Regions from separate parts of the Homo sapiens genome. Here all the other regions are linked to region 2. The links come from fine-mapping of genetic effects on plasma protein levels. A gene starts in region 2. Each other region holds a variant in brackets. All regions are shown on one strand. Distances are between the middles of the regions. Region 1 overlaps STAG3 (STAG3 cohesin complex component). Region 2 holds the start of CNPY4 (canopy FGF signaling regulator 4). Region 3 has its middle 2.1 kb from the start of LAMTOR4.

What was found. PIP is the chance, under the fine-mapping model, that this variant and not a neighbour inherited with it causes the effect. Protein levels are from antibody-based Olink assays in UK Biobank. Linkage for the fine-mapping came from a reference panel and not from the study's own genotypes, which makes the PIPs less certain.
Region 1: its variant is fine-mapped to the plasma level of the CNPY4 protein (UK Biobank, PIP above 0.99).
Region 3: its variant is fine-mapped to the plasma level of the CNPY4 protein (UK Biobank, PIP 0.96).

Annotation. Positions count from the first base shown.
Region 1 is chr7:100,178,973-100,181,694 of GRCh38, reverse strand. It overlaps STAG3 (STAG3 cohesin complex component), which reads right to left. Exons shown (of 34, transcript NM_001282717.2): 2 at 1,023-1,202. The coding sequence starts at 1,138. Among named protein-coding and RNA genes, the nearest start is that of STAG3, 2.4 kb to the right of the region's middle. The variant T/G (reference allele first, on the strand shown) is at 1,449.
Region 2 is chr7:100,118,572-100,121,331 of GRCh38, reverse strand. CNPY4 (canopy FGF signaling regulator 4) reads right to left here and starts at 1,698. Exons shown (of 6, transcript NM_152755.2): 1 at 1,470-1,698. The coding sequence starts at 1,587. It overlaps TAF6 (TATA-box binding protein associated factor 6), which reads left to right and starts at 1,974. Exons shown (of 15, transcript NM_139315.3): 1 at 1,974-2,128. RefSeq lists enhancers at 1,002-1,071, 1,442-1,661, 1,872-2,021.
Region 3 is chr7:100,145,417-100,148,176 of GRCh38, reverse strand. No RefSeq gene overlaps it. Among named protein-coding and RNA genes, the nearest start is that of LAMTOR4, 2.1 kb to the left of the region's middle. RefSeq lists an enhancer at 1-256. The variant A/G (reference allele first, on the strand shown) is at 1,228.

The sequences.
Region 1 (2,722 bases), 60 kb before region 2:
ATTATAGGCATGAGCCACCACACCCGGCCGGGACAAAGCCTTAAAGGAAAACTTTCACATGAAAGCAATGGAGATGAAGAATGAGGAAATGAGGCAGGAGAAGGACAACTCTTCCTAGTATTCTCTCCGAAGAAGAGAATCAAATGATACTCACTTAGCAGGTAGCGAGATCACTGCTCTTTGTAGAGAAAGATAATCATGGCTCAGGAAGTCATCTATCATTCATCCATAAATGGGAGAGTAATATGTATCTAGAGTTAAATTTCACCCCCTTGAAACATAAACCACATGTCTTATCAATTCAAGTTTATAACTTTGATATAATCTGGTCCCCCACAGCAGCACTGACAGAAACAGAAATGATTCAGAGAAAGCCAATTAAAACAGCCAGGGGATAAAGCAGATCTGTATGAAATTCGCTTTTTTCCTTCTGGAAAGGTAAAAAACCAAGATATATTATTATAACCTACACAGAATAAACTCATATATGGTAATAAATAAGGATACACAGACCTATTTACAAAATCCCCAAGTAGAAGAAATAGGGGACACTAGCCAAAAAGTATATACAATTTACCAGGCAACAAATAAAGAACTCTTTACTCCCCCATCTGCCAGCTCTCAGCCCCCACCAGGGTTGGTACATGCTGAACATAGAAATGTGTTTAAGAGAGGTTTAGACAAGATGGATGATGGATTAAAAACAGGATGTGCTTGAACCCAGGAGGCGGAGGTTGCAGTAAGCCGAGATCGCGCCACTGCACTCCAGCCTGGGCGACAGGGCGAGACTCCGTCTCAAAAAAAAAAAAAAAAACAGGATGTACTACTATTTTGATGTCTACAACATCTAGGACCGCCAAAAAAAACACCTGGAGCTGGAGGGAGGGTGTCACTGTGCTGAACGAGTATAGCACTTCTGGTGTTTTCACACAGTCCCACGCATATTATCATCAATGTGGGAAAACGAGGGGGAAGGCTGCCAGGGACACAGGAAGTGGCCACACAATGCAACATCTACTTACCCCTCTGAGGTATGGTTTGAGTCCCTGTCATCAAAGGGTAGACTGGCAGAGGAACTAGAAGATGCAGACAAGGCCCTCTTGGTATCTCCCACAGCTCTTTGCAACGGGGAAGACATGCTTGGAGAGGAGGAGCTATGAGGCCAGGAAGATGAGGACCACAGGGTAGGTATGGCGATCCAGCTGGGGAAGAAAGAGAAGAAAGGGCTCCTACCACAGCACTTCTCCATCCCCAGCCCTGACCAGTCCCTTTCTTTCCAAGGGAATGGTTCTAGAACTCTGGGGTCAGGTGAGGGGGACCAAAAACTAAGACAAAGGCTGGGCACCGTGGCTCATGCCTATAATCCCAGCACTTTGGGAGGCCAAGGCAGGAGGATGGCTTGAGCCCAGGAGTTCAAGACCAGCCTGGGCAATACAGCAAGACCCCAT[T/G]TCTAAAAAAAAAATAATAATAATCATTAGTCAGGTGTGGTAGAGCATGCCTGTATTCAGCTATTCAGGAGGCTGAGGTGGGAGGATTGCTTGAGTCCAGGAGTTCAAGGCTGCAGTGAGCTACGATCGCACCACTGTACTCCATCCAGCTTGGGTGACAGAAGAAGACCCTGTCCCCCCTCAAAAAAATAGTAATGATAAATAAGACAAATGGCTGGGCACAGTGACTCATGCCTGTAATCCCAGCACTTTGGGAGGTCGAGGCAGGCAGATCACCTGAGGTCAGGGGTTCGAGACCAGCCTGACCAACATGGAGAAACCCCATTTCTACTAAAAATACAAAATTATCCGGGTGTGGTGGCATATGCCTGTAATTCCAGCTACTTGGGAGGCTGAGGCAGGAGAATCGCTTGAACCTAGAAGGCGGAGGTTGTGGTGAGCTGAGATCGTGCCACTGCACTCCAGCCTGGGCAACAAGAGTGAAACTCCATCTCAAAATAAATAAATAAATAAGACAAAGAGCTGACCTAAGGCATCAAGGGATTAAGCACAACAACACCCCAGAAACTGGCCAGCAGGTTTGGAGTTGCTCTCCAAAAGCTGAGGAAGTCACACACCAGGGTAGCTTCAGACACATCTCTCTCTAGAGGCTGTGGAAGTGCAAACTGCCTACTGCAAGGAAATTTAACTCATAGGTATTTTCTTTAAAAAAAAAAATTGCACACTGGGTGTGGTAGATCATACTTGTAATCCCAGAACTTTAGGCGGCTGAGGCGGGAGGACTGCTTGAGCCCAGTAGTTCAAGACCAATCTGGGCAACATAGCAAGACCCCATCTCTACAAAAAATAAGCAAAAACTAGCTAGGTGTTGTTGCGCACACCTGTGGTCCCAGCTACTCAGGAGGCTGAGACAGGAGGACTGCTTGAGCCCAGCAGTTTGAGACCAGCCTTGGCAACATGAGACACACCCAAAAAAAAAAAAACAAAACCCAAGCAAGGTACACACCAGGGCAGCTTCAGACACAGCCCTCTCTAGAGGCTTCAGAAGTGTAAACTGCCTGCTGCAAGGGAATTTAACTCATAATTAAAAAAAAAAAAAAAAAGGCAAGGTGCCCAGGGTGGCTCAAACCTGGAATCCCAGCACTTTGAGCAGCTGAAGCAGGAGGACTGCCTAACCCTACGAGTTCAAAATCAGTCTGGGCAATATAGCAAGATCCTGTCTCTACGAAAAAACCAAACCAAAACCAAAAAAACTAGCCAGGTGTGGTGGTGCA
Region 2 (2,760 bases):
CCTTGTCTCTACTAAAAATACAAAAATTAGCTGGGCATGGTGGCGGGCGCCTGTAATCCCAGCTACTTGGGAGGCTGAGGCAGGAGAATCGCTTGAACCCGGGAGGCGGAGGTTGCAGTGAGCGAGATTGCACCACTGCACTCCAGCCTGGGCAACGGCATGAGACGCTGTCTGAAAAGAGAAAAAAAAAAAAAAAAAAAAAAAAAAAAAAAAAATATATATATATATATATATATATATAAAATTAATACAATTGGATAATAATAGTATGTCCCTCATAGGAGTGTGATGAAGATTAAATAAATCAACATATATAAAGGCTGGCACATAGTGAGCACTGTATAAGTATTCACTGTTATCCTGCAGTTATTTATTGAGCTCCTTCTGTATGCATACTAACAATATAGACAGCAATAAGACCTATTATCTCTATCTACAGGTCTCTGTCAGTGTAGTTGGGACAGATAAACCAAGGATGACAAGCTGTGGTGAAGCTGGGCCTGAACTCATGGGCTCAAGTGATCCTCCCACCTTGGCCTTCCAAAGTGCTGGGATTACAGATGTGAGCCACTGTGCCCAGGCCCGTTGGCTGTATTCTGATAGAAGGCCTGCAGAGGTGTTAAAGCAAGGACTGATACAATTAGGTGATTAAGTCTGTTTAAAAAGATTGACAGGTCAGGGGAGAAGAGCGGCACACGGAGGTGAAAGGAGACAGAGATGAGGACCAAGTCATGAGACTGTCATGACTGCCTTTCATGATACTGGAATACAGTTGAGGGGGTGAAGCGAAGAGAAAAGGAATCCAGGGAAGAAACGTAAAGTCAGGAGGGCAGCAAACTAGGGCATCAGGGCCAGCCCCCTTTCTCAACTGGGCCCCACGCTAGTGCAGCTATGGAAGGCGCTGCTTGCTGAAAAATCCATATAGTACGCACCGTCTGCAAAGTCTCACCGGATGGGGACACTCTCCTAGTTGTGTGGCTTCCTTTTGTTTATGAGCTTCAAAGGCTGAATTACTCACCCTCAAACCCCCTCAGCGGGGTGTGGGGCCTGTAATTTGGGAGCGTCTATGCTAGGGTAGGGCAGCGGATGTCCACAAGGCCTGAGCCTCACACCCGGCTCCTGCAGCCTCTGCAGATTAAGGTCTGGTGACATGAGGTAAACACTCACTGAAGATGCTCTAAAAGTTGGCAGTCCCGGGCCGATGGTCCCTGAACTACAATTCCCACAATCCATTGGCGGGCGGGGGGTTCCAAGCCAGCCAAAAAAATGCAGGCTCTCTCTGGATGCAGTTTGAGGTGGCACTACACGTTCGCTTCCTTGACCCCATCCAAATTCAGCCAAGCTCCACCAGAACCTCCCTCAAGCCTTCAAGGAGGTCGGGTGACCCACCCAATACAGGCTAGGATGTCCGGCCTAGAAGAAGGAGGTGTGGCCGGGCGATGCCTATAGGGGCTACCCCCTTCAAATACCTTCGCATTTGCTGGGCAAGCGTTCTGTGTCATCGTCCTCCTCCTTCAACATCCCAGCCCAAGCCTCGTGCACGGCCAAAAAAAGGAAAAGCAATATTCCCAACCGCACAGGTCCCATGACAAAGCGCCGTCTACAAACAATCACCGCTTGCCTTCAACTTCGGGAAGGTAGTGTGGGTCCCTTAAATTCCCAGGCGGCTAGCGGCAACCTTAAATCCAGCCGAGGAAGGTCGGCGCATGCGCAGGATCAGCCCAACAAGGGTGGGGCCTCGTTGCTACGGGTTTCCCTGCCTCCGTTTTGTGGCGCCTCTTGAAGGTCCTGGCAGCCGGGTAGTGAAGGAATAAATTGCAGTAATTACACCAAGAGGGAGTGCTCCTTATATATAGATGTAGAAACAAACTTTTAAAATATAATTTCATTCTGCGAGCCTAGAGGACTTATTCTGGTACGGGGAAGGGGCAGTGACTTGCTCTTAGGCTCTGCCAGGACCTGCTCCCACGAGGGGGCGGGGCCAAGATGGCGCCGAGCGCCGGGTGAGCAGCGTCTCGGCTGCCGCTAGAGTTTTCCTGCTCCCCGCGCTCGGGTGGCGGGGGCGGGTCTGAGTGGTACCCCGGAGGAGACCCTTTGAAGGTCCCTTGTGGGGACTGGAAAGAGGACGGTTGGTTGTGTGTCTGTGCTCGTGGGGACCCCGTGTGTGTGCCTGCATTGGAGAGATGTTGCAGGAGATGGGGTGGGCTCTCTGAACCTCCTTTCGCGCTGCCCGGGGATCTTCGACCTGCTTCTCTGCTGGGATCTCGCTTAAGTTAACCCTTCCCTGGGACGCCTTCCTGCCGCCTCCACTGATCTGAGGAGATCCTGTGACTGTAGCGTGTTTTATGAGCCTTTACTGGCAGAGGGTACCGCCGGGTATTGAAGGATTCGTAGGAGTTCGCCAGGGAAGTGGGACACGACCCCCTCTTGTAAACCCGGCGCCAGGCACAGAGTATGTCTCGAATAGTTGTGTTCCCTATAGATAAGACTTATAAAAGTCGGGGAGGAGATCAGGGATGGTTTGAAAAGAACCAATTTGTTTTTCGGCCTCCCTCTTCCCATCCTTCCAGCACGGCCCCACCCTACCTGTACTACTCCTAAGCAGTATTGATATGTTAATCTTCCTAATGTCCAACTGCAAGTGTGCCACTTTAATTTTTTTTTGTTTTTTTTTTGAGACAGGGTTTCCGTCTGTTACCCAGGCTGTTGTGCAGTGGCACCATCTTGGCTCACTGCAGCCTCCAACTCCTCAGTTCAAGC
Region 3 (2,760 bases), 27 kb before region 2:
AAAGGAAAAAAAAGGTACTCAAATGCTACTTTTTTTTTTTTTTGAGTCGGAGTCTCACTCGGTCGCCCAGGTTGCAGTGCAATGGCGCGATCTCTGGCTCAATACAACTTCCGCCTCCCGTGTTCAAGCAATTCTCCTGCCTCAGCCTCGCGAGTAGCTGGGATTACAGGCGCCCACCACCACGCCCGGCTATTTTTGTGTTTTTAGTAGAGATAGGGTTTCACCATATTGGCCAGGCTGGTCTCAAACTCCTGACCTCGTGATCCGCCCGCCTCGGCCTCCCAAAGTGCTGGGATTACAGGCTTGAGCCACCGCGTCCGGCCCTCAAATGCTACTTTTGTGCCTACTCAAGACAGCTCTTTGTTGAAGACAAGAATTTGTTCCCGAAGTGGTTTTTTTGTCCCCAGATTCAGTCCGGGACAATGTGGTGGTAAATAGAATCCCCAGCTAGCCAATGCAGCTGCAATACTGAATATTCATTCCCTACAGGAAAAAATTAGAAACAGTACCTTGGAATGATACACACACACACACACACACACACACACACACACATCACACAATATATGTAAACATTAGAAATTTTTGTTTTAAATAATTTCTAAACCTGTTGCCATATTAATGTGGTGGAGGCTGTGTTAGTGAAATAATATGAAGAATGATTCTAGAAGCCTGGGCAACATAGCAAGACCCCATCTCTAAAAATTTAAAAATTAACCAGGCATGATACTGCACATGTAGTCCCAGCTACCCGGGAGGCTGAGGTGGGAGAATCGCTTGAGCCCAGGAGGTTGAGGCTGCAGTGAGCCATGATCATGCTACTGCACTCAAGACTGGGTAAAAGAGCAAGATTGTCTCAAAAAGCAACAAAAAAATCTGAATATAATAACAATTGTTAAAGTCTGGGTGTCTTTTAAGACTTGTTAGAAACAGCAATTTCAAGGCTGGGCGTGGTAGCTCACACCTGTAATCCCAGCACTTTGGGAGACCAAGGCGGGTGGATCACCTGAAGTCAGGAGTTCGAGACCTGCCTGGCCAACATGGTGAAACCTCATCACTACTAAAAATACAAAACAAACAAACAAAAAAAAAAAAAACTAGGTGGGTGTGGTGGTGCATGCCTGTAATCCCAGCTACTGGGGAGGCTGAGGCAGGAGAATCCTTGAATCCAGGAGGCGAAGGTTGCAATGAGCTGAGATTGTGCCATTGCACTCCAACCTGGGCAAC[A/G]AGAATGAAACTCCGTCTCAAAAGAAAAAAAAAAGATTTTGATGTAATAAATTATGGTGGCAGTATTCTTGATATTTAACCATCTTTGTGTTTCTGGAATAAAATCTGCTGGAACAAATTATACTACCCATTTGTTTTACTGCTTTATTTAGAATTTTTAAAATCTATTATGATAAATGAGATTGGGCTGTAGTTTCTTTTTGGTATATTCTTTATCTGCTTTTGGTAGAAAGAGCAGGTTGCCAGATAAAATGAATCAGAGAGTTTCCTATCTTTTTTATCTATGGTCTGCAAATCAAACTGGTTGGACCAACTCACACTCCTCTAGCAATGTGTCAGAGTTCCCAGTTATCTCCAGCTCCATTAACACATGGTATTGCCACACTTTTTGTTTTTTGTTTTTTTTTTGAGACAGTCTTGTTCTGTTGCCCAGGCTGGAGTGCAGTGGCGCAATCTCAGCTCACTGCAACCTCCACCTCCTGGTTCCCGGGTTCAAGCAATTCTTCTGCCTCAGCCTCCCGAGTAGCTGGGACTACAGGAGCGCACCACCACACCCAGCTAATTTTTGTATTTTTAGTAGAGATGGGTTTCACCATGTTGGCCAGGATAGTCTTGATCTCTTGACCTCGTGATCTGCCTGCATCAGCCTCCCAAAGTGTTGGGATTACAGGCCTGAGCCACCATGCCCAGCCAGTATTGCCACACTTTTAGGGTAAAGTTTTTGGATATGCGATGGCTTCTCATTGTAGTTTTTATTTGCATTTACCTAAATATTAATGAGGTTGATCACATTTTCAGACAGGTTTGGCTTTTGGGATATCATCTTTTGTGAAGTATCAGTTCAACTTTTTTTTTTTTTTGAGACAGAGTCTTGCTATGTTGCCCAGGCTGGAGTGCAATGGTGCGCTCTTGGCTCACTGCAACCTCCGCCTCCTGGATTCAAGCAATTCCCTTGCCTCAGCCTCCCAAGTAGCTGGGACTACAGGGGCACGTTGCCATCCCGGCTTTTTTTTTTGTATTTTTAGTAGAGACGGGGTTTCACCGTGTTGCCCAGGCTGGTCTTGAACTCCTGAGCTCAGAGCAATCCACCTGCCTCGGCCTCCCAAAGTGCTACGATTACAGGCATGAGCCACTGCAACTGGCTTATTTATTTATTTTTTTTTTGAGATAGTCTTCCTCTGTTGCCCAGGCTAGAGAGCGGTGGTGCGATCTCGGCCCACTGCAACCTCCACCTCCCAGGTTCAAGCAATCCTCCTGCCTCAGCCTCCCGAGTAGCTGGGATTACAGGCACGCACCACCAGGCACGACTAATTTTTTTGGGTTTTTAGTAGAAAGGGGGTTTCACCATGTTGACCATGTTGGCCAGGCTGGTCTCAAACTCCTGACCTTAAGTGATCTACCCACCTCGGCCTCCCAAAGTGCTGGGATTACAGGCATGAGCCACCATGCCGGCCCAGTTCAACTCTTTTCTCATTTTTCTATTGAGTTTGTCTCTCTCTTTTTTTTTTTTTTTTTTTCCCGCCCAGGCTGGCT